2 separate regions of the Homo sapiens genome follow, and region 1 is linked to region 2. The links come from fine-mapping of genetic effects on plasma protein levels. A gene starts in region 2. The other region holds a variant in brackets. All regions are shown on one strand. Distances are from middle to middle.

Region 1 (7,822 bases), 70 kb before region 2:
TCAAATATTTGCCGTTAGAGTATGTGTTTCTTTTTTATATTAAAAACCAGAACAAAACAAAACAAGAAAAAAAACGGCATCATATTGTGAGCAAAATAAGGAAGAGAAATCTTCACGTTTGGGTCTTTTGAGTTATCTGGAAAACACCAAAACCCACAAGTAAGTACCTCTGAGGCAATCAGGCGGCCTATGAGGAAAAGGGGACAGAGGAAAATGGCAGAAGGGGTCCCTCACAGTTATGCATCCCTGTTTCCCTCTGCTCAGATTGGTTTTTCACCTTAAATGAGATAACATGTCTCAAAGATTCAGCACAATGCCTAGCTGTACTATTTACGGTATTCAATATTCATCATCTCAGAACTGACCTAATGCTCTCCTGCTTCAGAATTTTGAACAGGTGTACCATCCTGACTGAATCACAGCACCCCTAACTCTTTTCTGGCAACTGAATTACTTATCCATCTCCTCAACTCCTCTACCTGAGGCCAAGAACTGTGTCTTATTGGCTGTTAATTAATAGTTGCTGAATTAATGAATAGATGAACTTTAGGTAAATCATTTTACCACTGAGAGCCTTCTTTATCTAAAAAACTTCACAAAATTCAATATAATCATCAATTACAGCAACAACACCACAGGCATTTTCACACATTCTAGAGCTTAAGGCAATCGGAAATTATGAGCCTTTCTTGAAAAACACTACTAACAATGAAATCCAGCCAACTAAAAGATTAATCAAAATTAAGAACTTACGTAAGGAGAAAATGTAGTAAAAAGCCTGGCTAATAGCTTTGAATTCATTTAACTATTAAGACTAAACAACTGGAAATTAGGATTACAAGACGAAATTTAAATGTTCTAAATCTTGACAATGTAAAAATAATATATCTACAAAAGGAGAAAAAGAAGAAAATGTAAGAATGTTATCTTTTAGAGTAGAAAGACAATACTATTAAAAATTAAAATATAATTTAAACTAATAACTACCTGGTTTTTCATAATTTTTCTTCTCAACCCAGGAAAATGGTATTCTTTGCAGTGGAAAAATATTATCTAAAAGTCTAGAATTCCTTTAAACTCACTTTCAGGTTATCTAATTAAATTAACACTAAAAAAGTAGATTGTACAATGATGTCATTTTTATAAAATTACTTCTGTTCATCTATCTAAATCTATCAAATCCATATTTCCATATATAACTTGCAGCTGTAAGGAATGATGTTCTGATGTTTAACGGTAGTGACTAAAATATCTGAGTTGTGGGATTTAGGGTTTTTTTTTAACTTGTTTCAGTACTTTTCTGTTTTGCTTGAATTCTATATAATTCTGCCATTTGTTTAAAAGCAGTAAAGTATTCATTTTTAAAAATCAATTTAACCAACACTTTCTGAAAACCAACTCTGTATCAGATCCTTGCTAAATGTTAGGGATTCAAGAAGCTCACTCTTTATCAAACCATTAAATATATAAAAGCAGACAAAATATTTCAGTCACCTTAGTTTGATTCTACCCACTTATGACTGTCTTTTTAAAGGGCCCTGGAAGAACCACATATTCAAAATAAAAAAAAAAGAAATAAATAAATAATGTCTTCTTTCCCTAAATCTCTTGGGAAAGAAGACAAGCAGAAAGACATCTTCTGGCTGGGCATGGTGGCTCACGCCTGTAATCCTAACATTTTGGGAGGGCAAAATGAGAGTTTCACTTGAGCCCAGGAGTTCAAGACCACCCTTGACCAACATGGCAAACCCCATCTCTACAAAAAAAAAAAAAAAAAAACACAAAAAATTAGCCAAGCATGGCGGCCTGTGCCTGGGACCCCAGCTACTCAGGAGGCTGAGATGGGAGGATCACTTGAGCCTGGGGGGCAGAGGCTACAGTGAGCCATGATGGCACCACTGCACTCCAGCCTGGGCAACAGAGAGAAACCCTGCTGAAAAAAAAACAATAGATATCTTTCTTCACACGTGTGGAAAAGGAAAAAATATTATCTGGTGGTACTGTATTCAAGTTAAACGGGCAATGAAATAAGTTCATTAGTTTTACAAGTCATATACCTTAAACAAGGACAAGAAAAGTGCTATCCATATACAGAAGAGTCAGATAGTCAAATCTGGAGGTTACATAATCCTAGGTAATAACAGCCCAGACTCCATTTTTGATGGTTGGCTGCTGACAGCTTTTAAACCTCACCTCTCCCTCTTCCCCTCTGCCTCACATGGGGCAAGCTAATGAGAAAGCCCAGATGCTTCTTCCTTTGGGGCACCAGTGAGTTTCAAACCACATAAGCCCCTATCCATTAAAAGCCTCACCCCAGACCCACTCCCTAACTACTAAACAACAAAACAACAACAAAAACACCCTCAAGCCAGTCTCCTTTCCCTGTGCTGTCCAGCCATTTCTGACAGCTTGGGAAGCCTGCCCTTCTCTCCCCTAAAAGTTTCATTATGGAAGATACATTCCTGGTGTCCCTATGGTATCATCAATCTTTACATCCAAACCAAATTTTGGGTGGGGGCCCATCCCATTGCTGCATGGTGGTTATGATATAGAAAATGAAACTGGCTCACAATAAAATAGCCATAATTTACATATCAAACCCAAATATGATTTACATATCAAACCCAAACCT[G/T]TTCCAAATTGCCACTAACTTCTGGAAATTTTAAATCTACTATCTCAATTCAAAAACTATATATATATTACATAGAAAAAGTTAATGCTTTGGCTAAAATGAAGGTAAAACTTCTCTCAGTATATTCTTAGAGAAAAAAAATTCTCAAAGGATGGTCAATGTAGGCCAATGCAGGGGTTCAAAATCATGTCTTGAATTTAAAAAGAGAAAAAAGGATTATTTTACAAAACCTGGAAAAAATGGAAAGATAGATCTCTAAAAAAAAGTTACTCAAGTATCTTAGAACTAGAAAAAGGCTAAACTCTTAAATATTTCTTCAGTACCTCGTTATTACTACAAAAACAATGACAACAATTAGCACTCATTTTTTTTAGCTCTCACTTGGCCGTAGCATTGTGCTAATTGCTTTTCACACATTATCTTATATAATAACAATCCTATAAGTAGTATTATTATCTGTATTTTATAAAGGCAATAACTGAGACTTATACATTTTTATCATCATTTTACAGGAAAGTAAAGTGAAGCTCAAAAAGATGGTGGCACCCACCTAAAGGCTGAACAATAAGAGAGCAGGGCTGGGCCTGAGATATATCTGACTCCTGGGTCCACACTGCTAACCAGGATACTACACCGCCTGGTCCAGAAATAATCCCCTGTCAAGCTAGCAACAGAAATGTAACTTTTTAGGAATTACCTTTAATATCTCATCCAAAAGAACAGATTTAATTTCTAAATCCTCAAAATTACAAATATATCCAGAGGTCTGAATGGGTTCCTTTAAAGACAAAAAAAAAGTTATGTTTCATTATGCAAAATTTCCTCTCTTTTAACAAATCATGCTTTTAAATTTTATTATCAGAGTTTTCAGGTAAACAAAAGAGAGAATGTCATTAACACCCATATACCCATAACCTAAATAATTAGCATTATGGTAAATATGCTTCCTTTAACTTCTTGGCTGAAGTATTGTAAAGTAAATACAGTAAATTACGGACATCATGATATTTTATCCCTAAATACTGCAGTACATATCTTTAAAACATAAGAATTTTCTCTTACATGGCCACATTACTATGATCACACCTTACATAATTAATGTTAATTCCCTAATAGCATGTAATATTCAGTCCAATTTTCTCAATTAATAAAAAGTCATATAGCTTGAAAATTCTAATTCATGCAATTCAATATTAAAGTTAATTCTTCATAAAGCTGATAAACACTATATTTGTATGTAAGCCCATCTATCAAAGAAATCCCATACCACACTGAACAGTCTCTCCTCTGTAACATGAGCCAGAGTGCATTCCTGATATATCTCCTACTCTTAAGAAGATTTATTTGCCAATATGTAAGTGCATGAGACTGTTATATGTCTGTCTCTTATCTTAGTGTTATACAGGCTTGTTGAAATAAAGAATAGGATATGCATATTATAAAGTAGCTGCCCTAGATCCTTGTATAAACATGTTTATCATTAGAAATTTTTTTTTTATTTTTGGCAAGACAGTGCAACAAAACAAGATAATCAAAAGATAAACTCACAAAAGTTGATCCATGAAAAAAAAAATACTACCAAAGAGAAAGGGAGAAAGATGGAAAGAGAGATCAAAAAATAAAAGTTTGAAAAATAATCTGATTATTAATGCATAAGTAAATACATTTATGTAATTCAGATTTTAAAAATTCAACTTCTGCTGGAATTAACCAATTTTCTTTAGTTTCCAAAATTCATTAGCTATCTATCCACACACTTCATTTAAATATGAAGTTTCAGACCAGCAGGGTCTCACCTAACCAGTATGCAAGATAATTCTTTTTATCAAAAAAGTAACCAAAGCTTTAATAATCTATACTACACCAAACAAAATATTGGCACCCTTATCCAGCACACAAGTCAGAAGGCCTCATAATATGTGCCATATAATGAGTGTCCTGAAGTACCCTTATTTGTCCTACAATTTTAGCATATTGTGATATACTGAGGTTTGCATATACCTAACTAAGTGAATTGAGGGATTGTATTACCTAATTTTAGCTAACTCTCACAAACTGGACAAATGGCTTAAAAAGCTTCTTGCAAAGAACTTGTAAATTAAAAGTAATATTAATAATGCAAGCACAAGCAAACAAGAAAAGGCAGAACTGACACCTCTCTTACTCCTAGCACAGATTCTTGTATCAGTCACATTACAACGTGAAAACAATGACAATCCTATCAGGTCTGACCAAAAGTCAGCTAAAAGGTCAAAGTTATCAAGTAGAGTATTTGACACATGAGACTTTTATCAACTAAGTTAACAAAACCTTGCTCTAAAATGTGCATTATGCTGATATACTAGCTAATGTAGCATTAGCATGAACCATAGCAATTAGCATGACTTAAAAAAATAAAGTTATGTCATCCAGTATAATTTATTTTTCTCATTCTTTTAAAATTTCTATTTTGATTCATAATATATTAATATGGTAGGTCATGTAAATAATTTCTAAATAAATATGTATATATAAGAGCATATATTCAAAAGTTTGGGAGCCCCTTGTTTGAAAAAGAAGCAAATGTACAAAAATGAGTCTGATTGATGAAATTATGAGATATGAAAGAAACATGAAATGAAATTGTAGTGCCAATGAGAAGGAAGAGCCAAGAAAAAGAACAAAACAGCGCAATCAGTACCTTCAGAGGGTCACTGGAGATGAAAATGATCAAGCAGGGAATATCAACATTAAATATTCATCTCCTAATTCTCAAAGAAAATGTGCTTTATCAGTGAATTAAAACTTTGCACACAGATGGCATCTTTTTCTCTCAAATAATCTGAAGATTTACAGCTTAGATAAAGGTATGAATCTAGAATTCTTAACAACACTCAAATGGATAAAAATATATTGTTATTAGCTGTCAAACAATAACTTATCTCCTAAATAATAATATAGAATATTATGTCCTTAAGGAACATACTATTAAATATAATAGTATGTAAAACAGATCTTCCCTGCTTTGAAGAGATCATGTTCTTACATGATCAATAAGCAGCTAGAAAAGCAAATGAGCAGAGTAGCTAAACCAGCTGCGACCACAGTAAGCCAGTGTCCTTGTGAATGAAAAGAACAGAACAGCATCATTTATAAAGAAATCCAGACAGTGGGAAGGTTTTAAGAAATCCATCTAGCTCTAAATCTAACAGAAATCGAACTACATGCCAAACCAGAAAACAAATTCAAATTAAAAAACAGTATGTTTTTAAAAGGCTGTTCTGTTAAAACTACTTAAGAAACTCTTTCCACCAGGCAAAGATTTCACTTGGTACCAGACTGACCATGTGTGCTATAGACACATTATGAGCAGCCAGATACAACAAACATTCTCCCTTCTCCAGGCATATGATTTGTGATTTAGTATGAGCAGGGCTAAGGATAGAAAAAGACTCTAACATTCAAAAAGTATTCTACTCCCATCCTCAAGGTTATCCTGTGGATTACCTGTCAAATTCCCACAATTGTTTTGTGGCAAGGATTAAATTTCCCTTGGACCCTTGAAAGAAGCCCATGCTTACAGGTCAAATGCAGCAGCCCTGAATCTGAATGCCTTTCCTTTGAACTATTTCTCAGGGTCGAAGAATCACAAAGATCCTAAGACTTGCAAAAGCTTTAACAGAGCCTTTGAGAGCACTTTACATCAGGGCATTTTACATCCAAAATTCCTGAGTAGGGCTCAAATGGGGAAATGTGAAAATAATTTAGGATATTAAAGGGGCAAACAGTTTACCACTAAATAAATTACTCCAGAAACCCTTTGGCAGCTCAGGGGCCCAAGCATGCAATTTCTTCCCAAGAAGGAAGCTATACATGCAAACAAATGGAAATTAATGATATAAAGCATTTATTAACTTATTCCTTATTATTTACAAGAGTAGAGTGCAGCAGAAGTACAGAAAATTCCAAATTGAAAATCCATTACTAATTCAAAAGTCATTTAAAAGATTTATCTTCTTAATGATGTTTTGATTAGGTTACCACTCGGATTATTTTGTATTTCCTAAATACAACAGCTGAGAGTTGGCCAGAGTAGACTAAGTGACAGGAAAATCCAGAGCATAGAAATTAGCTGATGTGAGCCACAAGCAGAAAATCAAAATGTAACCTTAAAAATGAGAACAAAGGGGACTTCCTCATACCCAAAAGAGAGATTAATCCCTGCCTGCACTTGCATATTTGTAAGAATATCTGGGTTAAGAAAGAACACAGATTTGTGAACGATATGGTAAATGTAAATATAAATAAGACAAAGTAAGCACAGAATTAAGTGAATAAAGAGACAGAAAAGAATGAATGGACAAGGAAATTTGAAAACTATATTTTTTTATTAGGTTCTTTTCAGAAATTCTGGTAAATAAGGCTACTGATTTTGTTTTCTTAAGTTTGACAAGGGAAAAAAAGACTAGTGACCATGGCTCCACCTTTTAAAAAGAACAGATAAATAAATGCCTAGGAAGTACCTTTCAGAGAAAGTAGAGAATATTTAATAGATAAGTATTTTCTCACCTAAGACCAAATATTTTTAAAATCCACAGAAATGTTCCTATTTATTTTCAGAAATTCATGCAGCCGTGTTGGCACTGCTATTCAACAAACTTCTTAAAGAAACAAAGGGGAATCATCCAGGTTTTTATATTTGGCTCATTATTTATAGACTGTTAACACTCATTTCTTGTTTTTACCTCAGGATCCAAGTTTCTGAAAACATACATTCTTGTCTTCTCCATCATTGCAAACAAATCAGGATTATCTTTGGCCCACTTCATATCCCAGACATCTCTTCGTTCCAATTTTAACAACTCTCCAACTACTTGCTGTCCCGTACTGTCCGTTACTCGAGCATCCAAGTCAAAGAAAGTCAGAACTCCTGAGATGTCTATGATAGCAAGACGGCTAAAAACAATGCAATTAGAGAAAAGGAAAAAACTATAAAATTACTATCAGCAATCATGAGAATAATTACCTATAGCCATTCTTCTTCAAAATCAGATTATCAGAAACCTGGAATACAGTAGAAATGGCTTAAAATTTTGTTAAATAAATTTGATACAAGATATGGACTACTCTCTATTTTGCTCTCTTCTGAGGAAAATGTATCCAGAGACAAAACCAATTGGTATGAAATATAAAATAGTCTCAATGCTTTTA
Region 2 (8,530 bases):
ACAGTTTAGTATCACAGTACATTTTAGTGTTCATCTATTCTTTCCTGTTCTTTCCTGTTTCCCCCAACCCCTGTTTGCACACCCTCTCTCCTCGATACAAAAATCAAATCCACAAGTCAGGATGAGACAAGAAAAAAAGCCAATTATTAAACTTCTTTTTCTTTTTTTTGAGACGGAGTCTCATTCTGTCACCCAGGCTGGAGTGCGGTGGTGCAATCTTGGCTCACTGCAACCACCACCTCCTGGGTTCAAGCAGTTCTCCTGCCTCAGCCTCCTGAGTAGCTGGGACTACAGGTGTGCGCCACCACACCCAGCTAATTTTTGTATTTTTCATAGAGACGGGGTTTCACTATGTTGGCCAGGCTGGGCTCAAACTCCCAACCTCAGGTGATCCTCCCACCTTGGCCTCCCAGAGTGCTGGGATTATAGGTGTGAGCCACTGTGCCCAGCCCTAAACTTCTTTTTCAAGTCATTCCCCCTTCTCACCCAACACACGCATGCAGCCCTAAATGGAAATGAGGTCCTGGGGCATGAAGTGTCACTCAAGGCTCTTTCCTTTCCTAATAAGGAGGCAGAAGTTGATGCTACTCTAGGAAGGTAATACTTAGTAGGAAAAAAAGGTGATTCAAAATTAATGCCTAGACTAAGCAGTTTATAGAAAAAAATTAAAGCCTTACCTGGAACAGCCTACCTTATGTCTCTGTCTAGTTTTCTTTTAAAAGCAGAAAATTATCTTCTTGTTTTTAGCCTGCTGCTTGGAGGTATTTAATTAACAAAAAGAAAATCTTCCTTTCAGTAACACTTTAGGAATCGCAAGGTACCAACACATCAACCTGTGAGGCTGGAGGTGCAGAGGTGGTTTTTATATTCATTTTACAGGTGAGAAACCTGAGGTTCAAGGAGGTGTGAGAACTAGAAAGTGGTAGAGCATGGATTGGACTCCAGGTTTCCTGACTCCCAGTCCCTGGGAGCTTGCTACTGAATCCCAGTTACCTCTCTCTGAGGCAACATTTTCCTCCACAAAAATCAACATTCTCTCATGTATTCAGTAAACATCCTGCTTGTTGACTTTAAGTCACCGCCCTGAAATATGCTGTATGTCATGCATTTAGTTAAGTCAAAAGGAATTAAACCCAGGCGCAGTGGCTCACGCCTGTAATCCCAACACTTCGAGAGGCTGAGGGAGAAGGATCACTTGAGCTCCGGAGTTCTAGACCAGCCTGGGCAACATAGGGAGACCTCATCTCTATAAAAAGTTTAAAAATTAGCCAGGCATGGTGGCAGGCACCTGTAGTCCCAGCTGCTTAGGGGGCTGAGGCAGGAGGATCGCTTAAAGCTAGAGAGTCAAGGCTGCAGTGAGCCACAATCACACCACTGCACTCCAGCCTGGATGATAGAATGAGACCCAGTCTCTAAAAGCCAAAAAAAAAAAAAAGGAATCAAAATTCTTTCTTTCTTTAAAAAAAAAAAAAACAACTCCAGCAGCCATAAAAAAGAATGAGTCCATGTCCTTTGCAGGGACATGGATGAAGCTGGAAGCCGTCATTCTCAGCAAACTGACACAGGAACAGAAAACCAGACACCACATGTTCTCACTCATAAGTGGGAGTTGAACAATGAGAACTCATGGACATAGGGAGGGGAACATCACACACCAGCGCCTGTCAGGGGGTGGGGGGCAAGAGGAGGGAGAGCATTAGGACAAATACCTAATCTATGTGGGGCTTAAAACCTAGATGATGGGTTGATGGGTGCAGCAAACCACCAGCGCACATGTATCCCTATGTAACAAACCTGCACATTCTGCACATGTATCCCAGAACTTAAAGTAAAATAATAATAATTTTTTAAAAAGATCTGAATAGGAAACATTTGTCATCTATTGTCTCTAAGGGTAGCCACTATAAGACTTCAAAAGAACATTGGTCTTTACAGTCTTTTATCTTAACCTGAACATTTCCTTTCTATGGATCCCAGGTCTTTAGGCAAATGCAACCAATTATCAACCAGAAAATATTTAAACTTACCTATAGCCTGGAAGCCCCTCACCACCACCGGCTTTGAGTTGTCCCACCTTTTAGGACCAAACCAATGTATTTCTTAAATGTATTTGATTGATGTCTCATACCTCCTTAAATTGTATAAAAACAAGCTGCACCCTGACCATCTTGAGCACATGTACTCAGGACCTCTTGAGGGCTGTGTCACAGACCATGGTCACTCATGTTTGTCTCAGAATAAATCTCTTCAAATACTAAAAAAAAAAAAAAAAAAAAAAACCTCCAGAATTTTACTTCATTCCTGGAAAGTCCCATAGATCTAGAGCTAGGAAGAAGAATTATGTTGAAAATCTTTCCTGGAGATGGGTCAAAGTATTTTTGTATAATTAGAAAAAGAAAAGGTGGGGGTAACATGAAGATATGAACTCTGTAATTGACAGTGCTTTCACCAGCACCCAAATGGTGTCCTTATAAATATCATGGCTATGTTCTTATAACTAAACGTGCATGATTCTTTCCTTCTCCACTTGGTTATTCACACCGAATCCTCTATTCGGGGTGTGGTATGCAGAATAATGTCCCCCGCCAAAGACGTCCACGTCCTAATTCCAGAGACATGTTACTTTTACGTGGCAAAGAGCAGAGACTTTGCAGGTGTGATTAAGTCAAAGAGCTCTACACAAGAGGTTATCCTGGATTATTCAGTGAGTCAATGTAATTATAAAGTAGAAGAGGGAGGCAGATGAAAGAAATGTGAGTAACTCAATGGGAGAAGGCCTCAACCTGCTTTAGCTGGCTCTGAAAATGGAAGAAAAAGGCCATAAGCCAAGGAACTCAGCAGCCTTCATGCGGTGGAAAGGGAAGGGAAATGCAGTCTCCCCTAGAGCCTCCCAAAAGGAACACAGCCCTGCCGACACCTTCATCTTAGCCCAGTGAGACCAGGGTCAGACTTCTGACCCACAGAACTCTCAGGTAATAAATGTGTGTTGTCTTAAGGCACTAAATTCACAGTAATTTGTTACAGTGGCCATAGAAAACTAATACCTGAGGCTTGACCATGGTGGCAGAAAATTCTGTGAACATCTGGTTCCTTCCTGACTGGTACTCCGCATCAATCATTAGTTGTTTTTGAATCTCACTCCCATTTACTAAATAGCAGCAATTTGATTCCCAAGAACAAAGAAAGAATCTGAATCTCCTAAAATGTTCCCATACTCATAATACCACTGAGTCCTTACAGTCCTGCTAGAAATAAAAATCCATAGCGAAGCTTAGCAATTTCTGGTTGCTAAAAGGAGATAATTTGGAACAGGGTGGAATCTCGCATTTATTAATGGGTTATCATTCATGATCAGGTTCGGACTCTAGGTAATGAAAGACCAGTAAAGCTTAGGGGGACATGGCCACCTGGTGCTGAATCTCTCCTTCCTCTTCCAGTCCCATCCCAGAGGGAGGCAGGTCAGGACTAGAGTAAGATTAACTTCCAGAAGAAAGGCTTTCCCTCAATTCCCGGCCTGGAGCAACCAGCCACCAGCTGAATCTAGCCCTGTGGACCCCGGTACCTCCTGCCTTAGCAGCAATGCTTTTGCCATTTCAAATCTGCCACTTCAAATACGGGGACTGAGTATTTGAGTCAGGAAAGAGTCCCTTGAGCTCCTTCTCAGCTTATCCAGAAAGATGCAGAAGGGGATAGACAATTGAAATCAGCCTGAGGCATGCAGCGTGGCTGGCCAAATGAGACTGCATACCCAGAAATGGCCTGGCACAGACTCTTTTTAGCAAGACTGAAGCTGCGCTTTTTGGAAATGAAGATACAATCTTATGTAAACCATATTAAGAGGTTGGTAGGCTGGGGCAGTGGAAAGAGACCTTGCTTGGGATTTCGGAGCCCTGAATTTTATTGTGGCCTCTGATACTGATTCACAGAGTCCCTTCAACTTGATATGCCTCAGTTTCCCTTCATGTGCTGTCAGGGGCTGTGTCAGACGACCTGCCCGCTTCGCTGCACTATGAGCTTTGCTCTGCTTCAGGAATCAATTGCTGACCAAAAAGAGAAATAGAATTGTTCGCCAAAGACCCAGAGTGTCTTGATCCTGGGGTATCCTACGGCTCCTCGGATCTCCTCCTGGTCTCACACCCGCATCCCTTACCTTCCAGTCTGAGGCAGCCTGAGGACTGTGGGAGGGGAGGAAAGATCACGCCCTGATATTGGATGGAGATGGAGAGATTCCAAGAGAACTAACAGCAGAGTCTCAGGAAGGGTTTGCTCACTGAATGGAGAGGTCAGGACTGGGACGGAGCTTAGCAGCAGCCGCTGGGCAGCAGCCCCTGCGCTCCCCAGCTGCCCTGTGCTCCTGGCCGAATCACAGGGGAGTGAGAGCTTCAGGAGACCCACATCTCTAGCCTGGACACATGAGTGATATTGGGCATCTCCCTCCCCTTCTCTGGACCTCAGTTTCCCCCACAGGATTCATCCGGGAGGGGCCTCTTTCCCCCGCACCACGGTCGGCCTGAGGCCGGGATGAAGCGCGCTTGGTGGATGCCCTGGGCTTCTCCTCGTTCGATGCTCACGCGTCCCTCCCGCCGCCCGCCTGTACCTGCACCGCGGGCGCGGCCAGGCTCGCTGGTCCCGGAAGCGGGCGCGCCGTCGGGAGCCGCAGGAGAGGGGCGGCGTCCAGGGCTGCCCCCGGGACCTCGGGTCTCCAGCCTCCGGAAGCCCGGGCGGGCCACGGGGTCGGGGGCGGCGGAGGGCAGCAGCAGCAGCGGCCAGAGCAGCAGGAGGAGTCCCGGGAGGCGGCGCGCGGGGGCCGGGCGCGGCATGGTGGGCTCCGTGGGCCTGGTGGTGTCCGTCGGGGGCCAGGAGCCCACGCGAGGCTCGGATTTAAAGGTCCCGCGGCCTCGGGCCCCGCCCCGCCCCGGGGCCTCGAGCGCCAGGCCGGCCCGGCGAACCCCGCCCAAGGCCAACAAGGAGCCTTGTCCGCGCATTCCAGCGGCAGAAACGGAATGTCTGGGCGAGGCGGCCAGCGGCGCGGTGGTCACCTCCCGCCCCTGCCCTAAGCCCCGAGCCGGCTGCAACTGGGTGGGCTCGGCTGCTGTCGCAACCTCCGTCCTCCCAGTAACACCGGGGCAGGGGGGGCAGCCATCCGCGGCTGCAGCCTGCCCGGCCCTCCACTCTCCCTCCCACCCCAGCGGGGCCTGCGCCCCAGGTACGGGATGGGGACCCCTGGGCTCTGCTTTCCCTTCTGCCACTGGTTTGCCCGACTGGGGCTGAAGATGAAACCCTGCTCCTAGCTCTACATTCCTTTCCTCAGCCAAGTAACCCAAGTTTTGCTGTGGGCTCTTGTTTAAAAAAAAAAAAAGAAAGAAAAGGCCTCACAGATTCTAGGGGCATGAATAGAAACGCTTTCATCCGAGCTTCAAATATCCACAAACATTTGAACTTATATTACCGGGAATAGAAAGTCAAACATACATTCCCCAGAGAGCCCCGTTAGCTGGAAGGACAGCCTGTACCAACACAGGCTTCAAAGGCTCTCCCGAGGCCCCATTTCCTCTCCGGAAGAGTTAGCATGGTACAGGGCTGGAGGCTGCCAGGGGACCCCCATGGAACTCACTGTCTGTGAGAAGGAGATTTGCATAAATGTGGTGTCTGTCTACGGGAATGTGGTGGATTTAGGAAAGAGATACTGACTGCCTGCGGAGACCAGGAAGACTTCTAAAACCAGGTGACATTTGAGCTGCGTCTTAAAACAATGGGCGCGAGTTCCAACAGAGCCTATCTGGTCGTCCTATTTCACTATTTTCCCTCTACAAGTGATCCTCCTCACACGATCCTAAACCTCACTTCTCATATTTGTACCCCATGCTGGTAGCAGCATTATACACAATAGCCAAGAGGCGGAAACAACCCAAGTGTCTCTCTTTGTGTGAATGGAAAAGCAAAATGCAGTATCTACGTACAATGGAATACTGTTCAGCCTTAAAAGGGAGGAAATTTTGGCAGATGCTACAAAATGGATGAACCTTGAGAGTATTATGTTAAGTGAAATAAGCTAGTCACAAAAAGACAAATACTGTATGATTCCATTTACATGGGGAATCTAGAGTAGTCAAATTCATAGAGACAGAAAGAATGGTGGTTAACAGGAGCTGAGGGGAAGTGGGGATGGGGAGTTGTATAATGTATCAATGACATTGGGCAGTGATAGTCACACTGAGGGAAAAGGTCACTCAACTCCCACTGAGAACTCACCAATTTAGAAGGACCTTAGAAGAAACGAGAAGTTTGTAATAATGGGAAGAGGACACTAAGAAGTTTGAAAGAAACTATGCCAAGAAGAGGAGGGATTGATAAATACAGTATTTGCAAGCTCTGGTGGACATTTGTCTTTCGTCTTGCTTTTAGAATGATCCCCAAAGCCTTTGAACCCTACATTAGTCAGGGTTCTTGAGAGAAACAAAACCAATAAATTTTATATACACATACATATAGAGAGAGGGTGGGGGGAGTAATTGAGATTATGAGGGATTGGTTCATGCGATTATGAAGGCTGAGAAGTCCCACAGTCTGCTGTCTGCAAGCTGGGGGCCCAGGAAAGCCAGTGGTGTAATCCAGTCCAAGCCTGAAGGCCCAAGAGCAGGAGAGCCAATGACATAAGGCCCAATCTGAGTCCAGAGACCCAAGAACCAGGAATGCTGATGTCCAAGGACAGGAGAAGCTGGTTGGCCCAGCTCCAGCAGAGAACACATTTGCCTTCCACTGTCTTTTTGCTCCATTCAAGCCCTCAACAGATTGGATGATGCCCACTCCACTCACATAGATGAAGGTGATCTTCTTTGCTCAGTCTACCGATTCAAATGCTAATCTCTTCCAGAAACATCCTCACAGACACACCCAGAAATAATATTTAATAGCTATCTGGGCATCCATTAGCCCAGTCAAGATGACACATTAAAATTCACCATCACAAATACCTTCCTAAATTTAGGGATTTCCAACTTCATGAGTCAGCACCTCCCCAAGTTGACTCCAAGAACTTGCTTCCCCAGCATCTCTTGCAGCTAGGATGTACATAAGTGGCCCAGTCTTCATCGATCATATGTGGTGTCTATGCCAAGCAGCAGTGACTCTAGGTCTCCCATATAGCAAACCTGCAGTATAATTTTGGGAATGGTTGATGACTGTGTGGCTTCCAAGCTTGATTCTTGAACCTTTCCAGAAATTATTTGAACCACTTAATATCCAGGGCTACATATGGATGGTGTAGGTGTACATTGCACAAGTTCACAGGGGCACTATTCACATTCGTAGTCAACACATATTGATTATAACATTTGGAATTCCACTTCAACTGGGGAGTGATGTTTCTTGAGGAATGGTTGGCTTTTCCATTTGTACTTTGAGCTAGTAGTGGGACAAATAATACCCTTAATATATACTTTTTCTGTTTCTTTATTATTATTATTATAAACAGGGTCTCATTCTGTCACCCAGGCTGGAGTGCAATGGTGTCATCAGAGCTCACTGCAACCTCAACTTTCTGGGCTCAAGCAATCCTCCAGGTTCAAGCAATCCTCCTGCCTCAGCCTCCCGAGTTGCTGGGACCACAGGTGTGCACCACCACGCCCAACTAATTTTTTTTTATTCTTTATAGAGACAGGGTCTAATTATGTTGCCCAGGCTGATCTTGAACTCCTGGGCTCAAGTGATCCTCCCACCTCAGCTTGCCAAAGTGCTAGGATTATACATGTGAGCCACCATGCTTAGCCTCTTTTTCAGCTCATTCTAGCAGGAATGGGTTCTGTTTGCACCAACAATGTGGATATATTAATCTTGTGATTTTTTTTTTCTATTGCATACCACTGGGGGGCACTGTTTTAAAGAGCTCAAAATAAAAATCTCAGCTCCCTGGTGAATGTCCCTACACATTCGTTGTCAGTATCTCAGACAATTTCAGATGCTGGTGTATGAAAGTCATGCCATCTTGAATGAAATAGAAATTGTCTGATAAGTTTGTATCTCCAGAGTTCACACTCCAGGGCGGTTGTCTTACATCTGATGTCCAAAGATTGTCAAATAAAACAAAGGTAGCTCTTCTGACAGAGGAATTCAGGTGGCTGTAGGGCCTTCTTGCATGTCACCAACTCAACTGGCTGCTGGACCAGGTGGTAACTTTGCTTTCAGGTGTTTACTTGGGAATATTGCAAAAGCTATATTTCTCTACCACTGCATATTATCTTATACTACTTTGTCAAGATAAAGACTAGAATAACTTTTTGATAACCTAAAGACTTAGGTCATAAAAAAGCCAAACAGAGGTTTTTTGAACTATTCAAAAATCTAAGAAATACAACAAAGATTTATATATACACTTTACATTGTTTTTAGAATTTTATTATTTTTAAAGTAGGTAATACATGCACTTGGTCTAAACTTTGAAAAGAAAAAAGAAACCGACCAAATGTTAGGATTACTTTCAACTTTGCATTACTTCTTACAAGCAATAAATTCAACATCTTGGGAGAATTAT

Alleles and levels. Positions count from the first base shown, and alleles are read on the strand shown. Strength reflects both the effect of a copy and how common the allele is.
With allele G in place of T in region 1, the plasma level of the protein whose gene starts at base 4,857 in region 2 is higher (weak association).

Evidence for each region. A credible set is the group of variants that fine-mapping cannot tell apart. PIP is the posterior inclusion probability: the model's chance that the variant is causal. The UK Biobank Pharma Proteomics Project read protein levels with antibody pairs (Olink). The fine-mapping took linkage between variants from a reference panel, not from the people measured, so its PIPs are less certain.
Region 1: its variant is the best candidate, but not a certain one, in a credible set for the plasma level of the MATN3 protein (UK Biobank, PIP 0.58).

Annotation. Positions count from the first base shown.
Region 1 is chr2:19,938,430-19,946,251 of GRCh38, forward strand. WDR35 (WD repeat domain 35) reads right to left here. Exons shown (of 27, transcript NM_020779.4): 16 at 7,357-7,567; 17 at 3,330-3,410. Among named protein-coding and RNA genes, the nearest start is that of TTC32, 40 kb to the left of the region's middle. The variant G/T (reference allele first, on the strand shown) is at 2,633.
Region 2 is chr2:20,007,812-20,016,341 of GRCh38, forward strand. It overlaps MATN3 (matrilin 3), which reads right to left and starts at 4,857. Exons shown (of 8, transcript NM_002381.5): 1 at 4,598-4,857. The coding sequence starts at 4,820. RefSeq lists an enhancer at 3,961-4,573.